Homo sapiens: one gene and its partner. The protein of the gene in region 2 purifies or fractionates together with the protein of the main gene of each other region. This does not show direct contact. Each region holds a gene or a part of one and is shown on either strand. Other genes may lie near its edges. The genes, in order: ZNF346 and STAU2.

Region 1 (7,000 bases), on a different chromosome or scaffold from region 2:
TCATTGTCATCATGATCTTTGACTGTGTGTGAACCCCTAAGGGCAAGAAAGTGTTCATCTCTAGGTCCCTTTACCAACAGGGCTGGCCACACAGCTGGTAGGGACTACAAAGTGGTCTTGCAGGCCGGAGGCTCACGGTATGATAGCCCACTCACCCCCTGCCCTTCATTTCCTTGCTTGGTAGATGGGGCTGAATCTGACATACTAGGTGGCTTAGAAGGACTCTGGGGAATTGCTGAGGCAGTCTGATCATGGGAAGCTGAGAACCTCCCTTGGGGCTGTGTAGAGCCTTTCACAGCTGACCAGGAGCAGGGGCTGAGTGGCACTGAATGGGAGCTGAGGCTGCCTGGGCCCCTTCCTCAAATCTGGCTGTCTACAGTAAAGGATGGACAAAGAGCTCTTGAGGCCATAACATTCCTTTCTTTTTTTAAATTTTAAAAATTATTATTTTTAGAGACAGGGTCTTGCTCTGTTGTCCAGGCTGGAGTACAGTGGCATAATCATAGCTCACTGCTGCCTTGAACTCATGGTTAAAGCGATCCTCCTGCCTCACCCTTCCAGGTAGCCAGGACTACAGGAATGCACCACCACACCTGGCTACCTTCTTTTAAAATTTATTATTTATTTATTTTGAGACAGGAGTCTCACTCTGTCACCTAGGCTGGAGTGCAGTGGCACGATCTTGGCTCAATGCGACCCTCCGCCTCCCGGGTTCAAGCAATTCTCTTGCCTCAGCCTCCCAAGTAGCTGGGACTACAGATGTGTGCCACCAGGCGCAGCTGATTTTCGTATTTTTTATAGGGACGGGGTTTTGCCATCATGTTGGCCAGGCTGGTCTCGAACTTCTGACCTCAGGTTATCCACCTGCCTTGGCCTCTCAAAGTGCTTGGATTACAGGCGTGAGCCACGGCGCCCAGCCTTCAAATTTATTTTTATAATTTTTTTTTTTTTTTAGATAGAGTCTTGTTATGTTGCCCTGGCTGGAGTGCAGTGGTTATTCACAGGCATGATCACAGCATACTTCAGGCTGGAACTCCTGGGCTTGAATGGTCTTTCTGCCTTAGCCTCCTGAGCAGCTGGGACTATAGGTGCATGACGCCGCACCTGGCCATAACACTCCTTCTCAGCTCATTTTTGAGTCATGAAAAATGCTCTTTCAAGAATCACCAGGCCTATGATAAGTCCCATGGAACAAACCTATCACTGTGTAAGAGCTGAGCAGGAGAAAACCATCTCTCCTCATACACCTCATTTGTTCATTCAATAAAAATTCATGACACACCACTATGGACATCAGGAAGTAGAGATGAATAAGGCTGGGTCTCTGCCCTAAGTGATTAGCCTGGAAAGCCATACTGGACACAGTGTCCATACTGGCCTCCTTGTCTCCTTTCCTGCCCCTCCCTGCACTCCTTTACATAACAGCCAGAACAGTTCTCTCAAACATAAAGCAGATCCCCAGCTTAAACCCTTTAAAGACCTTCATGAGGCCCTATGTGACAGGAGAAGCAGGAGAAGGTGGTGGATGAGAAGATGAGGCTGTACTGAGTTCAGGGCACCTGAACTCAAGGGAGACTTTCACAGGGTGCTCGACTCTGTCCCAACTCCTAAAGTGACTACTGGGGACTACTGAGGTCTGAATGGGGTGGGGGTGAGGGGTCAAGACAGACATACTAGATCCAATGGCAATATGGCTCAAAACCCTAGGTCTGTTAAGTTGTAGTCTGGCCCATGAGGGAAATTCTTTATTTGGATGCTTCAGTGACCAAGAGACAGAGCATTAGGCACACACAGAAGCACACACATACACACAAACACACACACACACACACACACATCCACACACAATATGCAAAGCAAAGGCATTTCACAGGTGAAGGGATAGGGAGTGGGGGAAGGAGGCCACGAGAGCAGCTAGGGGCTTCTTTGACACAATGAAGAGAAGCCTCTGATGGTGACACTCCTTGGAATTCTCGTCTCAAGGTTACAAGGAAAAATCTATCCGTGTGGACTCAGTCCCAGGCCATAAAACACAGCAAAGATAGAGAAATCTGGGTGTGGGGCCTGGGAAACGCCTGTTCCTCACTGTAGAAACCTGCATCAGCTCTCTCTTTCTTTCCCTGGGACCCAGAAATCACCCGGTGGATGATGGGGAAGGCTAGCACCACAGCAAACTGGGCAAGTGGTCCGCTGCACAAGGGGGAAGAGAGGGCTAGTAGGGCCGAGGGTAGCAATGAACCTCACAGCTAGCGGGCATGAGGCAGTCTGCCTTTAGGGGCAGAACCCTCAGGGAGACTTGCATGTGGGGCACTTTCCCGTGTAACCTAGGGTCAGAGCACCTCTGATGGAGGAGGGGAAAGGTCCCATCCCCATTGGAGTGTCCTATGATCTCAGTGGACATGGAGGCCGCCCCCAGCCCCAGCTCGTTGCCAACTGCTGCAGATCCTTAGCACCATTCAGGAACTGTGGAGGGGGCAGCGGGGGTAGCAATGCTCCGCCAAGATTGTGTCACTGCTCCAGGAGGATACTTCACAGTTGGCAGAAACCTGCGCAACTGGCCATATCTGGTCTAAGACTCAGGAAAGCCTGCACCTTCTGGGGGAAGGCAGAGTGTCGTATTAGCTCCAAGCTCCCATGTTGCAGCCATTTCCTCTGTTTCCTGCCCTGCCCCAGGTTTGGCATGAAAGTTCCAGGTTTTGCTGGAAATGTCTAGGGCCCAGAGAGATCTCTGCTCTTTAGTTGCAAGAACTGGCCCAAAACTGACCTTTAGAGGAAAGACAGGTGGCAGGGGCCTCAGCACCTAAGGCCCAGAGGGGTTGGGAAATGGGGAAAGCCACCCTCCAAACTACCACCCCGCGAGACCCCGAGTCTCTCAATACCCTTGCCTCCCCTGTCATGACCTACAGGACCCCTGCCAAAGGGGAGCAGCAGGAGTGAATTAGCCCGGACCAATGAGAGGCTGTCTGTGGCCCAATCCTGCCTCAGGCCCGTGTACTTTCCTGGTGAGAACAACGAGCAAGAGGGAGCCAAGGGCTGAGCAGTCACGGGAAGCTGGCTCATGGCTGGCCCAATATGGGATGCTGGGCAGAATCACCTCTAGTCTTCCAAGGTGGTTGAGTCTTTCTGAATGGGTTGCCTTTGCATTGGAATCTGGCCCAGGGATGATGCCACTGTTTTTGGTGACCTGTATTTGAGAAGGAACAAAGGAAGAGGGTCAGTGTGTGGCAGCTGTATTGGCCTACTGCAATGATAGCACTGCCCTTCCAGGGCCTTGGAGTAATAGACAGGACACCTTTCCTTCACTGAGGTCCACTGTGGGCTGGCAGAATGCTGGATGCTTAGCTTCCATCATTCCATCCTCATGGCAATTCTGCAAGGTGAGAAACAGCACCCTCATTTTACATACAAGGAAACTAAAGTTCAGAAAGCTTAAGTGGCTGGCCCGAAGTATGTTTTTAGGTGGTAGGTTCAGGACTGTAGCCAATGCCTTTTCACTATACCAAACCACTGCCTACAGGGCCCTATAAAAACTCATTCCATTTGGTAGTGGCAGAGTAAAATGAATGGGCTTCGAAGTCAAACAGGCTTGAATCCCAGGTCTAACTGCAAGTAACTAAGTGACCTTGGGGAAGTCAATTAACCTATCTGATAATTAGGCTTTCTTTGGTTGTAAAAGATGGGTTTGGGAGGGGGTATCCTAATTTCAGACCTTTTGTTGAGAAATTTAATGAGACTCAATCAGGTATTCAACAAATTATAGCTTTATTCTTACAGAATTAGAGGCTTTTTTAAAATTTTGAGACAGGATCTCACTCAGGCACCCAGACTGGAGAATAGTGGTGCCATCATAGCTCACTGCAACTCATGGCTCACTCCAACTCCTGGGCTCAAGCTATTCTCCCACTTCAGCCTCTCAAGTAGTTGGGACTACAGGTGTGTGCCGCCACACCTGGCTAACTTTATTTTTTGTAGATGGGGTCTCACTACATTGCCCATGTTGGGAGAATTACAGACTTATTGACTTGCCCAAGGTCACACTGCTGGAAAGTTTAGCAAGAGAGCAGCGAACAACACTGGCAATTTCAGGTGTGGGTAGCCCCAGGGAGGGGCTCTGGTTGGCTTCAGGTTGTCTACTGTAACTGCCATCAGCCAGGCTGCAAGGGAGGTATGTATGCTGAAACACTGTGGGGCTGAGTTGCTGGGGCAACTCAAGTCTACACCTAAGAGTCCCCCAAAGTAAAAAACATATTCACAGGTAAAGAGGATGATCTGCTACAGTGTGAGAGAGGAGACTCCAGGCAGAGCAGAGAGAACTAAGGACATTTTTTACACCAATACTCTGTGTTTCTACCACCTTTAAATCATTCAGCTCAATGAGCAAAGCAAAATCAATGACCAAAGTCAAAGCAATCATTTCGGCAGCTTGCCTGCCTGAAACTCAGTTTCCTTGTCTGTAAAATGGGAATTCTTCTACCTATCTCAGAAGGTTATGCTGGGGCCAGGTGCAGTGGCTCATGCCTGTAATCCCAGCACTTTGGGAGGCCGAGGCAGATGGATCACTTGAGCTCAGGAGTTTGAGACCAGCCTGGCCAATATGGTGAAACCCCATCTCTACTAAAAAAAAAAAAAACGTTATGTTGTGGCACACTGCTCATACCACACGTTTCCCTTCGGAGAGGAAGGGACAGAACCATGTGGGCCCTCCAGGCCAGGCCCTATTCTCTTCATATCAGTGGTGCCATAGCCTACTTCTGAGCCTGACGCCTTGGGAAGAGCATGCTGTGAGCCAGACAGGCTTCAGTTTGAATCATGACCTTGCTTCATTCACATCACCACTTTGAATGCTGGTTGTCTATATGTATAAAATGGGAATAATTATCTCTTCCTCTCAGGGTTGGAAGGATTACCTGAGAAAATCTGCTTGACATATGGCCTGCAACAGAAGAGGGGCTCAATGAATGTTAGTCACTTCCAAGATTACCATGAACAGGTAACTCTCTGTTCACCTGGTTCCTTCAAAACCCTTATCACAATCTGTGATTATTGGTTGTTTACTTGCTTAGTCTGTTTCCTCCCACCAGGCTGTAAGGTCAGGAGAGCAGAGACTGGGTCTGTCTTGGCCATCATTCAGAAGATGCTCAATATATATTTGATTAAGGAATGAGAGGGCCTGGTCATATTTGATAATGACCTATAGAGGGAACTCCTGCCAGAAAAGGAGAGGGTCTCCAGGCCAGTGGAAAAGCACTTCCCCAGTCAGAGTGCTACAGACTAGGACAGCCAGGTGTTCTTAGGGTCCCACCAAGGAAATCATGTATGCTTCTCTATTAAACCCTTGAGTCCAACAGGTCTAAAGGCTGGGCAGAAGCTGGTGGAGAAATACATATAGAGGAGACACTTGTTCCTGTTACATGATTCATCTTCTGTTCACTGAAAAAAGACTGCCAGGATTCCATTTCAGCCGAGAACTACCTGGCTTTGTTCTGATGCAGAAGTCCTGAGCTCCTGCTATGGATCCTAGAATTTCAAAAAATGGTTACTTACTGGTTCTTGTGTTTGAAGCCGCTGACATGAGCTTGGTACTGTTCTATGGAGTTCAGCACTATCTTACATGTTTTGCAGGGGTAGCCCTTTCCAGCTGAAACACATCAAAATCAAGATCTTAGTAATCCAGAAAGAAGGAACCTGAAGACCGTTGCTTTTCAGAGTGTACAAATGCCCTTCTAAGGACGGACAGGTGAGGCGAGGTGAGGTTGCTGGCCCTGATGAGAACCCAGAGGCCACAGTGCTAAGGAGGCACAGACTGTGTGCCTATGTGCTTCCTGGGGTTGGGAAGATCCTCATTCCTGTGTCCCTCGTTCCAGCGTAGAGCCTGGCCCAGACTAGCTGTCTGCTGAGTGATAAAAGAATGACAGAACAGAGAGGTGACATTTGGTCTGTATTTCTACCTTGACTGTGCTAAGTGGCCTCATTAAGGACGTCCTTCACTGAGAGATCTCTGGGAAGGTGCCACTCTCCTAGGGCTTGCGGTAACAGTAATTAGTGAGAACGCTGGTTATGATAATCAATCTGTCTTTCTACCCTGGGAATCACAGACCCTATCTCAGGGCTGCTCCAATGACAAAGTGGCTTTTCCCACATGGTCTGGTAGTGAGGGAGGAGCCAGGATAGGGAACTGAACTGCTGGTTCTGCTTTCAAGTGATCTTAGCTAGATCCTTTCCTTTCTTCTGATCCTTTTCTTTTCTTTTTTTGAGACGGAGTCTCGCTCTGTGGCCAGGCTGGAGTGCAGTGGCGCGATCTTGGCTCACTGCAACCTGTGCCTCCCGGGTTCGAGGGATTCTCCTGCCTCAGCCTCCCAAGTAGCTGGAACTACAGGCATGTGCCACCACACCCAGCTAATTTTTGTATTTTTGGTAGAGACAGTGTTTTATCATGTCGGCCATGATGGTCTCTCTCTCTTGACCTCATGATCCATCCGTCTAGGCCTCCCAAAGCGCTGGGATTATAGGCGTGAGCTACCGCACCCGGCCTGATCCTTAGCTTTTCTTACCCTCAAACCAATTACACCGCAACTTGTTTTTTTTTGAGACAGTCTTGCTCTGTCGTCCAGGCTGGAGTGCAGTGGTGCGATCTTGGCTCACGGCAAGCTCCGCCTCCCGGGTTCACGCCATTCTCCTCCCTCAGCCTCCTGAGTAACTGGGACTACAGGCGCCTGCCACCACACCTAGCTAATTTTTTTTGTATTTTTAGTAGAGATGGGGTTTCACTGTGTTAGCCAGGATGGTCTTGATCTCCTGACTTCGTGATCCACCCGCCTCGGCCTCCCAAAGTGCTGGGATTACAGGCGTAAGCCACCACCCCAGCCCACAACTTATTTATTTATTTAGAGATGGAGTTTTGCTCTTGTTGCCCAGGCTGGAGTGCAATGGCGTGATCTCTGCTCCCTGCAACCTCTGCCTCCCAGGTTCAAGCGATTCTCCTGCCTCAGCCTCCCAAGTA
Region 2 (17,256 bases):
GGCAAATTAAGGTAGAAGATTACAAAGGGGCATAAGGAAAATTCTGGGAGGAATGGATGGGTTCATTATCTTGATGGTGGTTATAGTTTTACACATGCAAACAAATACGAAAACATATCAAACAGTGCACTTTAAACATGTACAAGTCACTCTATGTCAATTATACCTCAATAAAGTTGTTTAAAGGAACTAAACAAATAACTTTAGAAAAACAAACATAGTAAAACTATAAGGTAGGAAATGGTCATACAAAACTAGTGATAGAGGTTGCCTAGGGAAGGTTGCATGAGGACGTGATGGAAGAAGAGCATACAGAGAGCTTCAAAGCTTATTGAGAAATGTTTTATACTCAAGTTGGGCAGTAGGTCTTTCTCACACTTACTTAGTATGCTTTTTAACTTATACACAAGTTTATATATAGCTTTTTGTATGTATTATAACATAAAAGCAAAAATTCAGGCCGGGCGTGATGGCTCATGCCTGTAATCTCAGCACTTTGGGAGGCCGAGGCGGGCAGATCACCTGAGGTCGGGAGTTCGAGACCAGCCTAACCAACACAGAGAAACCCCATCTCTACTAAAAAAAAACATACAAAAAATTAGCCGGGCATGGTGGCACATGTCTGTAATCCCAGCTACTAGGGAGGCTGAGGCAGGAGAATCACTTTAACCTGGGAGGAGGAGGTTGCGGTGAGCCAAGATCACACCATTGCACTCCAGCCTGGGCAACAAGAGCGAAACTCCGTCTCAAAAAAAAAAAAAAAAGCAAAAATTCTTGGAAACCAAATTATCTTTCTGCATATGAACTTTCTTCATGTATTTTTCCTAGAAATAAAAGTCTGCGTATATCATACGGTCAAAACTTTATTTCCACCTATGAAAATTTATTCTTGTCTCTACTATCTGTAGAGACATGGAGACATGGATAATCACTCTGTTACAGATTACACGTTACACTAAACTTATGTAAGAGCCACTATGCAGTCTTAGCTCTTCCGGATGATTGCTGCCATTTCATCTTGACAATCTGTAGTTTGGTGCTCCAGGTACAGCATCCAGGCAGATCCCTCATGGTCTTTCAAACTATGTTTAGGATTTTGGACTTTATCCAAAGAGTAAGAAAATTACTAAGAGGTTTTAAGCAGAGGCATGATATGATTAGACAGGTGTCTCTAAAAGATCATACTTTTTAAACGATCATTTGGTGTCAAGAGTACTTGTAGCCAGTTAAAACCTTAACTGTAGTAGTTCAGGTTAATAGATGTCTGTGAGTTGGACAAAAGAGTGGCAGAAGGGATGGAAAAAAAGGAACCAACTTAAAAAACATTAGGTGACAAGGCCAAGCACAGTGGCTCACTCCTGTAATCCCAGCACTTTGAGAGGCCAAGGCAGGGCGGATCACAAGGTCAGGAGTTCGAGACCAGCCTGACCAACATGGTGAAAGCCCGTCTCTACTAAAAAAACAAAAATTAGCCACGCGTGGTGGCGCACGCCTGTAATCCCAGCTACTCAGGAGGCTGAGGAAGGCAGGAGAATTGCTTGAACCCAGGAGGCGGAGGTTACAGTGAGCCAAGATCATGCCACTGCACTCCAGCTTGGGTGACAGAGCAAGACTCCGTCCCATAAAAAAAAAAAAAGAAAAAGAAAAAAAAGAAATATTAGCTAACAGAGTAATAGGACTTAATGACTGATAGGACGTAAGGGGTAAGAGAGAAGTTAAACGTCGGGCGCAGTGGCTCACGCCTGTAATCCCAGCACTTTGGGAGGCTGAGGTGGGTGGATCACAAGGTCAGGAGTTCAAGACCAGCCTGGCCGACATGGTGAAACCCCATCTCTACTAAAAATACAAAAATTAGTCGGGCATGGTGGTGGGCACCTGTAATCCCAGCTGAGGCATGAGAATCGCTTGAACCCAGGAGGCAGAGGTTGCAGTGAGCCGAGACAGTGCCATTGCACTCCAGCCTGGGCAACAAGAGCAAAACTCCATCTTCAAAAAAAAAGAGAAGTTAAAAATGACCCCCAGCAGTTTCAGCAGCTGGATGTTTGTGCCAGTCACTGAGATAAAGAATGCTGCAGGAGAAAGAGGTTTAGAAGGGAAAATGATGAATTTGGGCCCAAAACTTGAGGCACCTGTGAAATACTAAGTGGGGATGTCTAATAGGTAGTGCAGAGCATACGGTATTCAGGAATCATCTATTTAAAGATGAAATTGAACCCCCAGAAGTAGAAGAACAGCTTAGGGAAAGAGGAGGAAAAAGACTGAGAACTTCACTGTTGCAATGGTTAGATGAAGGGAAAGGAAAGAGCAAAGGAAACTTTTAGCTTTTGATAAAATACTGGTTTCAACTTCCACTTATATCCTGAAAAAAAAAATTAAATAAAGGGCCGGGCGCGGTGGCTCATGTCTGTAATTCCAGCACTTTGGGAGGCCGAGGCAGGTGGAACATGAGGTCAGGAGATCAAGACCAGCCTGGCCAACATGGTTAAACACTGTCTCTACTAAAAATACAAAAAAATTAGCTGAGCATGGTGGTGTGCACCTGTAATCCCAGCTACTCGGGAGGCTGAGGCAGGAGAATCGATTGAACCCAGGAGGTGGAGGTTGCAGTGAGCCGAGATCATGCCATTGCACTCCAGCCTGGCAACAGAGCGAGACCCTGTCTCAATTAAAAAAAAATTAAATTAATTATAAGGGGAATGAAGAGGGACTGATGAGAAAAGACAAATCCACATAATAATTTATAAGTCTAAGATTGAAATCCCAATGAAAAGGTAAAGAGAAGCTCTGAGTCTAGCACTAGAAGTAGTATGCCCAGTTCATGAAGATGTTAAATAAGTAGGAATGTGTTTCCAGTGGCATACTGTCTTTATTTCTGTTTAATTTGACTCAAAGAATGTCTCTGAGTTCCAAGGAAATTATTGTTGATATAGATTGCAATGAAAAGAATCAGATACATAAATCCAATTTAGATAATGATGGAGTTCAGTGTACATTAAGAATTGCTTGGGGCTGGGCACAGTGGCTCATGCCTTTAATCGCAGCACTTTGGGAGGCCAAGGTAGGCAGATCACTTGAGCCCAGGAGTTTGAGACCTGCCTGCACAACGTTGCAAAACCCTGTCTCTACAAAAAATACAAAAAATTAGCTGTGCATGGTGGTGTTGTGCCTGTAGTCCCAACTACTTGGGAGGTGGGAGGATCACTCGAGACCAGAAAAATCAAAGCTGCAGTGAGCTGAGATCCTACCATTGCACTCCAGCCTGGGCAACAAGTGAGACCCTGTTTAAAAAAAAAAAAAACAACTCTGGGTGGCAAAGGCAGGCAGATCACTTTAGGTCAGGAGTTCAAGACCAGCCTGGCCAACACAGTGAAACCCCATCTCTACCAAAAAATACCAAAATTAGCTAGGTATGGTGGCACATGCCTAGTCCCAGCTACTCTGGAGGTTGACATGGGAGAATCGTTTGAACCCAGGAGGCAGAAGTTGCAGCCAGCCAAGATCATGGTGCCACTGCACTCCAGCTTGGGAGACAGAGTTAGACCCCGTCTCAAAAAAAAAAAAAAAAAAAAGGCAGCGGGGGAGGGGATGACTTGGTTTCTTGCTCTGATTGAAATGAACTACCAGCACCCTTGACAATTAAGTTATTCCTTGGACAGCAAATCTTAAATCATCATTCTATATACCAATAAGGACAGTCTTGTAATAATTGTGTCCAGAACATTTGATCTCTAAGATTAGAAAGCCTTCTTTGTAGTCTCGTCTTATAGAGGAGAATTACATTTAAAAACAGAATGTAAACACAAAGACATTATCAGGGCAGTTTTACATGTTAACAGGATAACCCTATACAGTGACTCTGAAAATCCAAAAGTTCACAATTAACCAATATCAAATGGGCACTGGAGTCAGATGTGACAACTGGATCTGAAAGCTGATTCTGCTACAGGATCTTGGATAGGTTTCTTAAATATAAAGGGCCTCATCTGTAAGATGGAAATGAATGCTGCATCACAGAGTGATTAAGTGATCAAATGAGACAATGTGATTATTTTATTACTTTAAATAAAACCAAGGCAAATAATCATAGATATTTTACCTGCTTCCATTGAGTGTAACAAACTATAGACCCTCAATGTATAAGCCATACAAGGAAGTGAGGAATATGCTAAAAATCAGGATACTATTCCAAGCTGATCCATTTACTGACATATTATAAGGTATGAACATACTTAAAATTATCTAGATTCCAACTCATTATACACATGTTGTTCTCTCAAAATAATCTTACATTTCAGAGGGTATCTACAAGCTTTATTTTAACATAAGACAGACATGGCAAAAGTAACTCCAAGTGTGATGTATATGAGGAAAAATGCAGGAGGCTAACCTAGTCTGGGAGTAGGAGAGGACCAGAGGAGTTCCTAAAAAAGTCAAGTTTATGCTGAGATCTGAATGATGCATAGGAGGGAAGTTCTGGGATAATATTACTTATATACTGGAAGCAGTAGCAAATAACTGAGAATTCAAAATGTTTCTCCTGTCTCCCACCTCTGGGGAATAACATTTAAATAATAATCTTGCTTTTAATAGCTATAGTTAAAACAAGAGTTAGATTTATATCCTACTATAGAAATGTACAGATCTTTTCCAGCCTAACAGTTTATTATGATGATTATTATTATGATTATTATTATTATTATCATTTTGAGATGGAATCTCATTCTGTCACCAAGGCTGGAGTGCAGTGGCAGTGATCTTGGCTCACCTCAACCTCTGCCTCCTAGGTTCAAGCGATTCTCATGCCTCAGCCTCCTGAGCTGTAGCTGGGATTAGAGACGCATGCCACCACAACCGACTAATTTTTGTATTTTTAGTAGAGACCAAGTTTCGCCATGTTGGCCATGCTGGTCTCGAACTCCTAGCCTCAAATGATCCACCCGCCTCAGCCTCCCAAAAGTGCTGGGATTACAGGCATGAGCCACCGTGCCCAGCCTGGTTTGCCTGGTTTATTATTCTTAATTTATCAAGATAAAACTTAGTTTAATAGAGCAGACAGAAGTTATGTGACCAGTTTTGTGCCACCATTCCAACATAAAATGCTGTTCCTCCATCACAGAAAAGCCATAGATTTTATATATTAATAGATTTAAGAAAACAGTTCATGGATATATTCACATAAACATAAAATGTGAATAGGTAGTATTAGATACAAAATACCAATAGTTAATATGTGTTATTTATTATAGTATTTGCATTATCATTAATAACAATGAATACTTAATAATTACTAATGCATTTTGTGCATTGTTTCAGTTAATACTTATAACAATCCCATACAGCAAGGTCAGTTACTATTCCCACTTTATAAATGAAGAAATATTTTTAAAGTTAGGTAACTTGCTCAGGCCACAGGGATTCATACTCAGAACTGACTCCAAAGTTCATTCTCTTAATAGCTATATTCTACTCCTGACTGTGTAGGAGGAGCATATGAATGAAAGTGCCAGTCCTCTTTGGAACCACTATGACTCATGATAAGTGGATCTATTTGTATTTATTTTTAGTCTACCTTACATATAACATATAATTCCAGTTCAGGGAATGCATTACCTACTACATCTTCTAAGTGAAGTCATGTCAGTATTCATTAAAAACAAATATTTAAGTAGTTATTTTTGTATATATGTATATATGTATTTTAAATAAAGGTACAAAGGTATAAAACCTGTAAAAATACCTAAATTGTGCCATTGTGCAATCAAAAGAAATCCATTGAGATTAAATATATTTCTTATCTGTAATCCTTCATTTGTATAGCCTGATCAGAAGAAGGCTGCTAAATCAGTGAGGCTGAGCCAGCAACTAAAATGCTGGCAATTTAAGGCTTTCTCTGGAAACACAGAACTCTAGCTCCAGACATGTCATACGTGTCAAGCATTCACAGGCACTGTCCTGTACTAAATGCTGATTCATCTCATTCCTCTGATATTTACCTTGCTTCTCTTATTAATGTAAATAAATTCTGACCCAATAAAAGAGTCACAATATCTTGAAAAGCTGTGTGCTCTATATTCTTCTTTGGCAAGGTATACACATCTGAACGAATGGCAACAAAATAACACCATCTACTTCATATGGTTGCTATGTGGATTAAATGTGATTAAAGCATGCAAAGTGTTGGGACAAAGTCTGGCACATAGACTGCTTTATGATTTCCAGCTGCTGTAGCTATCATTGTTAGTATTAGTCACATGATTTTTTTGTGTGTATCCTGTTACCATTTCATGATATCCTAAGAAGTTACTATGCAACAGCCATGTGTGCAGAAAGAACACTGGATTAGAGATCAGAGCGGTTCAGGAGGTTTGACATGATTGCTGAATAAAAATGGGCAAACTCTTTGAACACGTTTTGTAAAATCTTATTTGTAAAATGAGGGCTAACATCATCTACCTTATACGGTCATGAGGGGGATTATAGTAAAGGTGACATGAATGGTAAAGCACTTTTTAAACAACAAAGAAATACATAAATACCTAAGGTATTATGATTATTTGATGTACAAATGCAGGTGCACAGGTATTTAAAAAGCAAAATAGAATTGTCATTAATTTATAGTCACATGTCCTGCCCTCATTTCAGGACTGTATATAGTCCATAAGTTCAGGGATCTGCCTTATAGAAAAATGCTTATCTATAGCTACTATAATATTTATTTAGTAAAACTGACTGATGTTCACAAATATAAACTTACCTTTACTATTGTTTTAGGGCGTTTTTTAAAAAATAGTTTTGGCTTTTCCACCACAGGAAGAGGTGGAAGTTTTTTAAGCTCCTGTAAGACGGTGGTCGCAGCGCGCTTCTTGGAGAGTTTTTTGCTATTTCCTTCTCCTTCTGCAGAGAACTCTCCTACTGACACTCGAGTAACAAAGCTTTTCATATGTGGTGGTCCACTTTCTTTAATAACCTATTAAATACAAGTAAAATATTAAATAATGGATAGGCACTTGAGATGTATTCTTAAAGTATGACTTAATATTCATATCAAAACCAAAATTAGTATTATGCCAAAATTATAGTATTTCTTTAAGAAAGCTATTATGAAGGTATTATACTGGGACTATTTATGACACTTGATGCTTAATGCAATTGAAACAAAAGAAATCTAAATAAACACATTTGATTCATAGTCAAAATGATTTATTACTTTAAAACAGATCATTCTAATTACAGTTTCTCCATGTCTTATGGAACACAAATTTAAGAACATCAAAGATACCATTAGATTAGATACCATATTAGATTGGTCATCTAGAATGATAATTTGTATATAATTACATACCTAACTTCCTCCTATGTACGAGTAAGTTGCTGGAGAAACGAGTAGTTCTATAAACCACAAGGCACTGTGCCTGTGGAAGCCTCTCAAAAACAGTCAATGGATAAAAATAAGCTGTTTTTGATAGGGATGTCAAAAGCTGTTTTACAGAAAGGGATATTTATTCTTGTGACACGATTTTAAAAAGGTAAGTAGGTATGCCAAAAAAATTCCTAGCTTTCTAGAGTAATGAGTTATGGACCTGTCAACTATGAATGTAATGTTCCTAAACCTTGTTTAATCTGCAATACTAAATATTTAACCTTTAATTGTTCACATTAGATCATCATTATAAACATCAGATATCCTACATCATAATATATTGATGTTCCCAAGAACACCTAAGAATAATAAAACTGTCTGTTCTTACTCATTGTAGCCTTTAAAAAAAATCCCAATAATTTTTTAGTATAAGCAATTACTTTTTACAGGTTTTCCAAATTTTCCGTATCATTTCTTGCTGGACCAATAGGATCTCAAGTACATTCTCTCCCTGACTTCCTCATTTTGCTGCTTTTAACAAGCTGTGGACCGAGAACTGAGATAATGCAACTTGTAAGAATGTGTCCAAGAGAAAGCAAACAGTTTCTCAGTCCAACTCAGATGATCCTGCCAATGAGTAAGATGTGGGAGCTTTCTAGTAGGTGAATGTCATACAATGTGAGGGAAGAATCTCCACAACTCTTTCAGCTTATTTCCTGGTTCTTGTCTACTTTCCAGACATGAGTTGTAAAATTAGTGACCTCTTAATAAAAGAAGTATTATAATAATTATTTTTTTAAGTTTTCTTTTTTGAAATTTCATACAATTTTATGAATATATTTGCAATATATTTATCTAGCTGTTAAGTCAAGAGTTGCTTCATTACATCTTACTTCTTGGTGATTTTGTTAGTTGAGGTTAAAGTGAAACATATTTTGGCCTCCACACAATTGAAAAAAAAATTGGATATTAACATGTATGTCACTAAATCTTAACTTGAATAAATTTAATTTAATCCTATTTAAAATGCCAAATCTTATAGGATACCACAAATTATCTATACCCAGAAAATAACTTTTATAATAAAAATTGAAATACCATGTATACAAAAGGCTTAATACAGAAAAGAAAAAAATCAGAAGGAATCTGTGTTATCATCATGATTTCTATTTTCACCAGGGCCTAGATCATTTCATAATACTGGGTTTGAACATATAGAAGCACACTAACTCTTGCAGGATACTAATACACCAGTTAATTTGATTTGTTTGTTTAAAATAACCACAGCAAGGGAAAAAATGGGAAGATCTCTACCGAGTACATACCTCAAAACTGACAGGCATATTTCGCTTCAGAGCAATTTCAAACACTAAGCTGATCTCAGACTTATTTGCATCTTTGTCATCATCCACATCCTTTCCTGATTCACCATTCTAAATCACAAAAAATAGGATAACACTGAATCTTGACATTATAACAAACTTTACTTTTATTCTACAGTCAAGATGGCCTATTTAAATTACAAGAAGAAACAACAAACTATATAGACTGTATCTGCTGCATTCTCCTGTAACCACAGCGGTCAAGGGCTTTGCTGCCAGGCTTTTTGTTACTCGATTTTTAGCTTGTTTTCCTTGAAGGAAAAGCATTTAATGCAGACTTTGGAAATCTTTTACTCAACCATACACTAATTTGAGTTTAGCCTACATCCCTAAACCTGGCACTCTTGTTTTAGAGTTCTCTACCCACCCAACCCCCAACACCCAGGAATTCCCCCACTGGTGTTCTAATGTGATCTATGAGGATGAAGTTACAGAAAGAGTACAGGATGCAAACCAGGAGCATCCTAATTGGAGATCTATGTCTGGCACAGGCATTGGTTTACTTTATTCACTTATTTAACACATACTTCTGGAAGGCCTCATATATGCTGAACTTACTATAACTATTAGAAAGAGACAGTATTCCTTGCTGTCAAGAACTGGGAGAGAATGATCTAGTGGGAAAACAGATCAAGAAATAGATAGGAGCTCTCATGAAAGAGTACAAGCAGAAAAACACCTAAGTCTGCCATTAAGATAAATATCAAAGGAGAAAGAAACAATTGGTTTGGGGAAAGGAAAACTGTAGAGGTTGAACTGTAGGGTAAGTAAGAAGCTCACTATGCTGCCGGGCATGGTGGCTCACGCCTGTAATCCCAGCATTTTAGGAGGCCGAGGCAGGCAAATCACGAGGTCAAGAGATCGAGAACATCCTGGTTAACACAGTGAAACCCCATCTCTGCTAAAAATACAAAAAATTAGCTGGGCGTGGTAGCATGAGCCTATGGTCCCAGCTACTCAAGAGGCTGAGGCAGGAGAATCGCTTGAACCCGGGAGGCAGAGGTTGCAGTGAGCTGAGATCCTGCCACTGCATTCCAGCCTGGGCAACAGAGCGAGGCTCCATCTCAAAAAAAAAAGGAAGCTCACTATGCTATGTATAGGACATGCCTGAGCTAGAGATACTATTTTGAAGTCAATCAAGAAAGTAGCTGAAGCCATGAGAATGAGTGAGATTACTTAAGAACAGCCTCAATGTCATTTGTAAAACAAAAGAGGACTGAAAAATCCATAAAATCTCTTCCACTTTAAATCCTTGATTCTAGATTCACACAATGTAATCTATATTCAATAAACATAGTATGAAATATAAGCCAAATCAATGTTATTTCTCATCCTCATATACATCCCCAAATCCCCAGTTGCCTGGGAAGTGAACTCAAGGGAAGAACCAAAGCTCTGAAAGGTAGTCACCCTGCAGGAACACATGAAGCAAGACTGTCAGGTCTTCACTCTAGTATTCTTCCCTATCAGAACAGATTATTTATTTTAATTATAAAATGCTCTGATTTGTTTCACTGGGAAAGTAGAAAGAACAGACTGTCACATGCAGCAGCACCACACCTGAGGAGATCTTTCTGGAATAGGTTCATTCTGCAGTGCTTGGAGGGCTTTCATTGCAGCATTGTGTCTAGCAGCTTGTCGAGTCTTTCCTTCCCCAAAAAATTCATTATTTCCTACAGTGAGCTGAACATAAAAGATCTTAGGCACTGGGCAATGATACCTAAAATAAGAAAATAAAAACATTAAAGTTAGCTTAATAAAACCACTCTATAATCATTCATAAGATTTGTTTAAAATGATACCAATTATATAATGTGCTATACTCTTAATAAAACTTTAACCTCAAAAACATACTTTTTTGATAAAATGTGAGTCAATACATCTATAGATAATAGCTTATACTGATCTCCATGAAAAACATATATAGAATACAACATTAAACATAAAACAATACAGTAAAAATTATTTAATTATATCACAGGATACTTCCTGGTGAGAAGTTTTCGGTCAGATTTTGACAGAAGTAAGAGAACAGTCTGATGAAGCTACAACAGAGGCTGGGTCAGGCAAGACTGTTCAGGCGACAACATGTAGATTACCGTGCTTTTTGCAGAAGATAATTACGATTAGAAATATAGATTAGAAATGGACCGACTACAATGCAAAGTAATAAGGAGAGCAGATTCAGCATAAGAATAAGGAGTTTAGGCCAGTTCTTAAGCAGGAAGTGTTATATTCATACATTTTACGGTGCCTGAGGTAATGAGGCTAATGAGGTGTGACTAAAAAGCTGCAATAATGCAGATATGAAGAGATAACAGAGAATGTAAGAAGAAACAAAAAAACCAAAAGAAATTAAGCAGAAAAAATTAAGATATGTAATAAAATCCATTAATTCAACAATTATTTATGGAGCGTCTTCTATTTGACAGGGGACTATGACAATGAACAACAACACTTAGAGTGGGGAAGATAAACAATAAGAAAAATATGTAGAATACCTAGTATGTTAGATGTAGATGTAAGAAAAAGTAAAGAGGAAAGGGTTCAGAAGTGTCAGGGAGGTAGGTTTTAGATAGGGTGGCCAAGAGAAGTTTCATTGAGAAAATATCAATTGTGTAAAGACATGAAATAAGTTAGGGAACAAGCCATGCAGATCTCTGGGACAGTGCATCTGAAGCAGAGAGTATACCAGCAGCAAGGGCAGCGAGGCGGGAGTGTGCCACACATGTTCAAGTAACTCGGAGGAAGCCTGTCTGGCAAAAGTTTAGGGAGACAGGAAAAGCTAGATGAGAAGAGGTGGCAAGATTCCATAGGGCCTTCCCTACAAATTGCTGTAGGCATTTTTAACCCAAGTGAAATGACCAGCCACTGGAAGGTTCTGCACAGAGAAGTGACAAAATCTGACTTATCTCTTGGAATAACCATCTGACTACTATTTTGAGGACACACTGTAGGGGAACAATGCTGGAAGCAAGGATATCTAATAGGCTACTGGGATAATCAAGGGGAAAGGTGACAGTGGCCTGAACTAGGGTGTAGCAATGGAAGTAACGAGAAGTCATTGTTTCTAGATGAATTTTGAAAGTAGAGATGATGGGTTTACCCAAAGACTGGCTATGGAATATGAGAGGGGAGTCAGGGATGACATCACGGTTTCGGAACTAAACAACTGGAAAATGGAGTACCCATCTATTGAGACAGTGAAGATTGCAAAAGAAATGGGTTTGCTGGGGGTGGATTTCAACAGCTCTGTTTTGGGGATATTCAATTATTAGACCTATTAGATATCCAAGTGTAGATGTCAACTGGACAACTGAATTTATTAGTCTGGACTTCAGGAAAGAGGTCCAAGATAGAAATAATATTTGGGAATCATCAGTATATAGGTGGTATTTAAAGGCATAATATAATGAGAACTCTGTGGGAGGGTGTGATGGGAGAAAAGCCAAGCAAGCACGATGTCCTTCCTGAAAGTCAAACAGGAAAAAAGTCTATCAAGGAGAAGGGAGGGATTAACTGGATCTAATGCTACTAACAGGTCAAGTAAAATGATGACTGAGAAATATGACCACTGAATTGAGCAACTTAGCAAAATAAACAGAATCGATTTTGATGGAATGGTGGATTTACAACTGCAATGCTGAAAAAAATGAGTTAAAAATCACTCCAGTCCTAAAAAATGTTTGTTTCCAAGCAAAAAGAAGTCCAATTGAGGTCCTACTATATTTTAGATAATTACTGCACATCCAAGTAGTGACGCTCTATGTCCAACCTGAGATAAACTGGATAGAGCGCATCATGTAAGCATTCACCAGGCAGATGGGACTAATCAATGAAGGTTTACTGAAGGTGAAGAACTAGAAATGTTGATTGGTACTGAAGATGCAGATTTGTGAGGCAATAATTGAAACCATGCAAGTGGATAAGCACCTGGAAAGGGTAAGTGTAAAGGAATCAAAAAAGAGCCTAAGGCTCGGAACTGATTAATGCCTGTGATCAAAGTGCAAGGGAAACAATAGACAGCAGTGAAAGAGATGAAAAAGGGTCAAAGTTAGAAGAAAAATTACAACACAATGTCAGGGACAGGAGTAATTAACAGTGTCAAATGAAGGAGAGGAATTCAGAGTATGAAAAAAAAGAAAAAGTTGCTGTTTTAAATGCTTAACCTAAAATCAATTTTCTTGAACTACAGTTTTCTATTAATTTAAGATAACGCATTTTAAATGTTTTTATTATAAACAAAGATTAAAAAGCATTAAAAAACTATAATCTTTTTTGCTTTTTGGTTACAACAATTAAATATTGTGTACTGAAGTGCACAATTTCCTATCATCTATTTTATTTTAATCCCTTTAATGCAGAAATTTATTTTAATTCCTTAATGCAGAAATCTGACAGACTAATATGAATAACGCCGGTCATCTTCACTTCATATTTCTCAAAATTCAATTTTCCCACCTCCACATAACTTTGTTTATTTTTAACTGGTGGTACTATAAAACTTTAAAACAGACAACTTGAAATCAGAAATTTACTCCTGAAGTGAGATCTCATATGGCAAACTTTCACCATAGAGCAAATGTTTACAATTAATTATAAACTTCTGAAAATAGAAGGTCCACAACTGAAATGCTAACAGACCTTTAACTACAGTAGAGGGAGTGGGCGCCACTATAATCACTAAGGCCTGCTGACAATTACAAAACTCATTTTGGTTTGCCACAGAGACAAACAAAATTTCTGTTCATTGTAACTTTACTGGAATATGATGTCATAACACATAACCATACTGAAACAATCTGCTGATTTTCTGGCCAAAATATTAATTGCACACCAAAGAGCCCTTGGGGCCTCTCCCTTTTTGGTCATCAAATATGGCTCAATGTATGTGTATGTGCATGCATGTGGATATATATGTATATATAAATTATATTGTGTAAGTATCAGAGGAAAAATTAAGTATGTTGCATTTTTAACATAAAAGGTAAAAATTCTAGCACTAACAACAGGAAATACCAAGACTGGATGCCTGACTTATTTCATTCTGTTTCACTTCATCCTCTTACTTAACAATGATTCTTAATAATATACCCCACATGGTTTGAATACCTTATATATCACATCTCCTCATACCATCATGACAATCAAGATTAGCCAGAGCACTCTCATTAATTGCATCCAGATTGAATTACAGGGGAGATGATGCAGAATGGTTTTTGTGTGATAGGTCTGGTCTCAAAATACTTACTTCCTTTGGTAAAGAAATACCCAAAGTTTATTAATTATAAAGATCGATATGTTCTATTTAGTGGATTTCCTTCTACTTTCACTTATTTCAAGTATTAAGCTCACTTTTAGTAAGGTATTTGATATGGTTTGGCTGTGTCCCCACTCAAAATCTCATCTTGAATTGTAATCCAAATTGTAATCTCCATGTGTCGTGGGAGGGACCTGGTTGGAGGTTAAGTGAATCATGGGGGCGGTTTCCCCCATGGTATTCTCATGATAGGGAGTGAGTTCTCACAAGATCTGACGGTTTTATAAGCGTCTGGCATTTCCCCTGCTGGCATTCATTTCCTCTCCTGCTGTCCTGTGAAGAGGTGCCTTCTGCCATCCTGAGGCCTCCCCAGCCATGCAGAACTGTCAGTCAATTAAACCTCTTTTCTTTATAAATCACCCAGTTCAGTCTCGGGTATTTCTTCACAGCAACATGAGATCAGACTAACACAGTAGGTATAATAAGTGATGTACATATTTTTACAAATTAGTATATTTACCTAAGCAGACATAGCTATTCTTGAATGATTTTTCTCAAGTAGAATTCTGTGGTCAATGTTTAGATCCCCATAATGATTACTGTTAAAAGATGAACCACGAAAACTCCCCCATCCAAGTTATTTAAGTTTCAGGGTCAAATGGTTGCATTTCTTTTAAATCCCAAAAAAGTCTTGGGATTTGAAAGATCCTACTTTCATCAGAATTATCTTCCATGCTTGTTAAAAATGAAGATTCCTGTGATCCAAGCCTGATCTGCTGCATCAGAGTTTCTGAGGATGGAACCATAATTTTAAGCTGCCCTGCTGACTCTCTGCACGATAAAGGTCCAGGATTATCACCACATCCCACAATGTGGCCCATGTGACTTGGCAATTGCTTCAGAGTCCATTCAAGGAGACCACACACAATGCTTACTGCACAATGGTTAGGTCTTTCTCTCTTTTTTTTTTTTTTTTTTTTCCTGAGACGAAGTCTCGCTCTGCTGCCCAGGCTAGAGTGCAGTGGCTAGATCTCGGCTCCCCGCAAGCTCCGCCTCCCGGGTTCTCGCCATTCTCCTGCCTCAGCCTCCCGAGTAGCTGGGACTACAGGCGCCCGCCACCATGCCCAGCTAATTTTTTTTTTTTTTTTTTTTTTGAGACGGAGTCTCGCTGTCGCCCAGGCTGGAATGCAGTGGCGCAATCTCGGCTCACTGCAGGCTCCGCCCCCTGGGGTTCACGCCATTCTCCTGCCTCAGCCTCCCGAGTAGCTGGGACTACAGGCGCCCGCCACCTCGCCCGGCTAATTTTTTGTATTTTTAGTAGAGACAGGGTTTCACTGTGTTAGCCAGGATCGTCTCAATCTCCGACCTTGTGATCCGCCCGCCTCGGCCTCTCAAAGTGCTGAGATTACGGGCGTGAGCCACCACGCCTGGCCAGGTCTTTCATATCTCTTTTTCATTTAATCCTCACTACAGCCTGGTGAGGCAGGAGATGTCCCCAAGGTCACCTTAAGAGGTAACAAATGTCCCCAAAAGAGTTGCTGGGAACCAAATTTAAGTCTGCCTAACTGCAGAGTCCAGGAAATTCCGTATGGAGCTTCCTAAAAATCTGCTTTATCTTCTTCCATTTTTGTTAATTTTTGTTTATTAAATTGTCTATCTTCATGGAAGGCCAGAGAACCTAATGCAAGGGATCTAAAGTAAGGCCCACTGATAGACTTCAGAGATGTTTTATTGAGTGAATGGCTGCTGAAACAAACAGACAACCATGATGAAACACTGTGTTTCTGCAGCATGTCAGATCAAATAGACACAAGTGCATGACGTAAAATCAAAGTGAAACATCAAAATGAACAGCGTTGTGTGCCACATTACTTAACAGACTAAATCTGACAAATGCTGCTTGCAAGGCCTTTTTATCCCCATGTCTCCTTGCCTTCTAACTGCTGGAAGTCTTGCAAAAAATAAATAAAATTGTAAATAAAATAAAATAGAATCTTCCTTTCCTTTAGATCCCAAACAAGTCTTGAGATTCAGCCTATCTTCAAGATACCACAAGTCAATACAACAGTAAGAAAGAATGTATACTGGTTCCTTTGATTTAATACTTGATATTCCTTACAGTTTTTTTGAGTAAAGGAAAGATTTTACATTCACTTATATCTGACTGTTAGTTGTAGCAACTTTTTATACCACATATCCTTGCCAACCTCCCTAAAGTTACTTCATTTAATGCCCTCTTTATGGACTCATTTTGTATTATCTTTCTAAACAACTAAAATCCCGTATGTCCTCCCTACCATTCTGTGACTGTTTTATTCTCCAACATCTCCACTTTCCTGAGTATCATTTTTACAAGGTGAGAAAGACATATCCCAAATAACATTAGGATTTTTACAAATTGAAAAATAATTACCTCATTCTATTTGATAGCATTATTCATAAATCTCAACACAGCTTAAACATTCATATCTCCCCTACAGACTTACATCTTAAAATATATGAAAATGCTATCTTCCGATCTAATAAGGAGAGGCTTTGGATTTCTGTGTTTATTTCTAACATTGACTGGAAACAGAAATGTCACTTAACCTTTCTATCTCAGTTTACTTATCTACAAAATATTTGTAGAATTTATGTTTAAAGGACCCTAAAGGCCAAAACTAAGAATTCAAATGACATGTCGATTATTTTGACTCTTTGTACACTTTTTGGCACTGCTAAGCATTCTTTTTCTTGCTGTAGAAAAACAGCAGGTTTTTATCATAGAGCTATAAAATAGTCCTTGGCACATTTTCAAACTTGTATGTATATAAAATATCTAGATAGAAGACAGTTCTTTCTCTATTCATATCTACAAATTTTGAAAAATATATCTTTTATGAGATCTAACTGTTAATTCTTGAGGAATTTCAAATATTAGGACTGATTAGAAAAGATTCACAGGTCAGATGAAAATATGCTTTAAAAGAGGTGTATGGATATTCTATTTGTAGAATTACTGTAAGTATGTTTTAAATGCCTAGAGGAAATATAGAAAGATATGCACTAAAAGCTAGGATAGGGTGTTTTGAAATGATAGCATTATAAATGATGTTCTTTCCTCTCATAATTTCAAGTTTTAAAAAATAATACGGTACACTAGAATAAAAATGGAAAAAAAAATACTTAATTGAAGGAAGTCTAGTCCCTATCCAAACAAAGGTAAATCTGTGTTTGAAATTAAATTTGATAAACTAGTGGAATGATTTATGGAA

The links.
Region 1: the proteins of STAU2 (region 2) and ZNF346 purify together in Homo sapiens (affinity purification with mass spectrometry; 2 studies listed by BioGRID and IntAct, with this or other methods). This does not show direct contact.

The regions. Positions count from the first base shown.
Region 1 is NC_000005.10:177,060,696-177,067,695, reverse strand, and holds part of ZNF346 (zinc finger protein 346), read right to left. Parts: intron 5,639-7,000; coding exon 5,545-5,638; intron 3,185-5,544; coding exon 3,097-3,184; coding exon of another isoform or gene 2,939-3,096; 3' UTR 2,596-2,938; coding exon of another isoform or gene 2,570-2,595; 3' UTR 1-2,569.
Region 2 is NC_000008.11:73,606,990-73,624,245, forward strand, and holds part of STAU2 (double-stranded RNA-binding protein Staufen homolog 2), read right to left. Parts: intron 10,463-17,256; coding exon 10,303-10,462; intron 8,794-10,302; coding exon 8,686-8,793; intron 6,968-8,685; coding exon 6,755-6,967; intron 1-6,754. UniProt on the Homo sapiens protein: RNA-binding protein required for the microtubule-dependent transport of neuronal RNA from the cell body to the dendrite.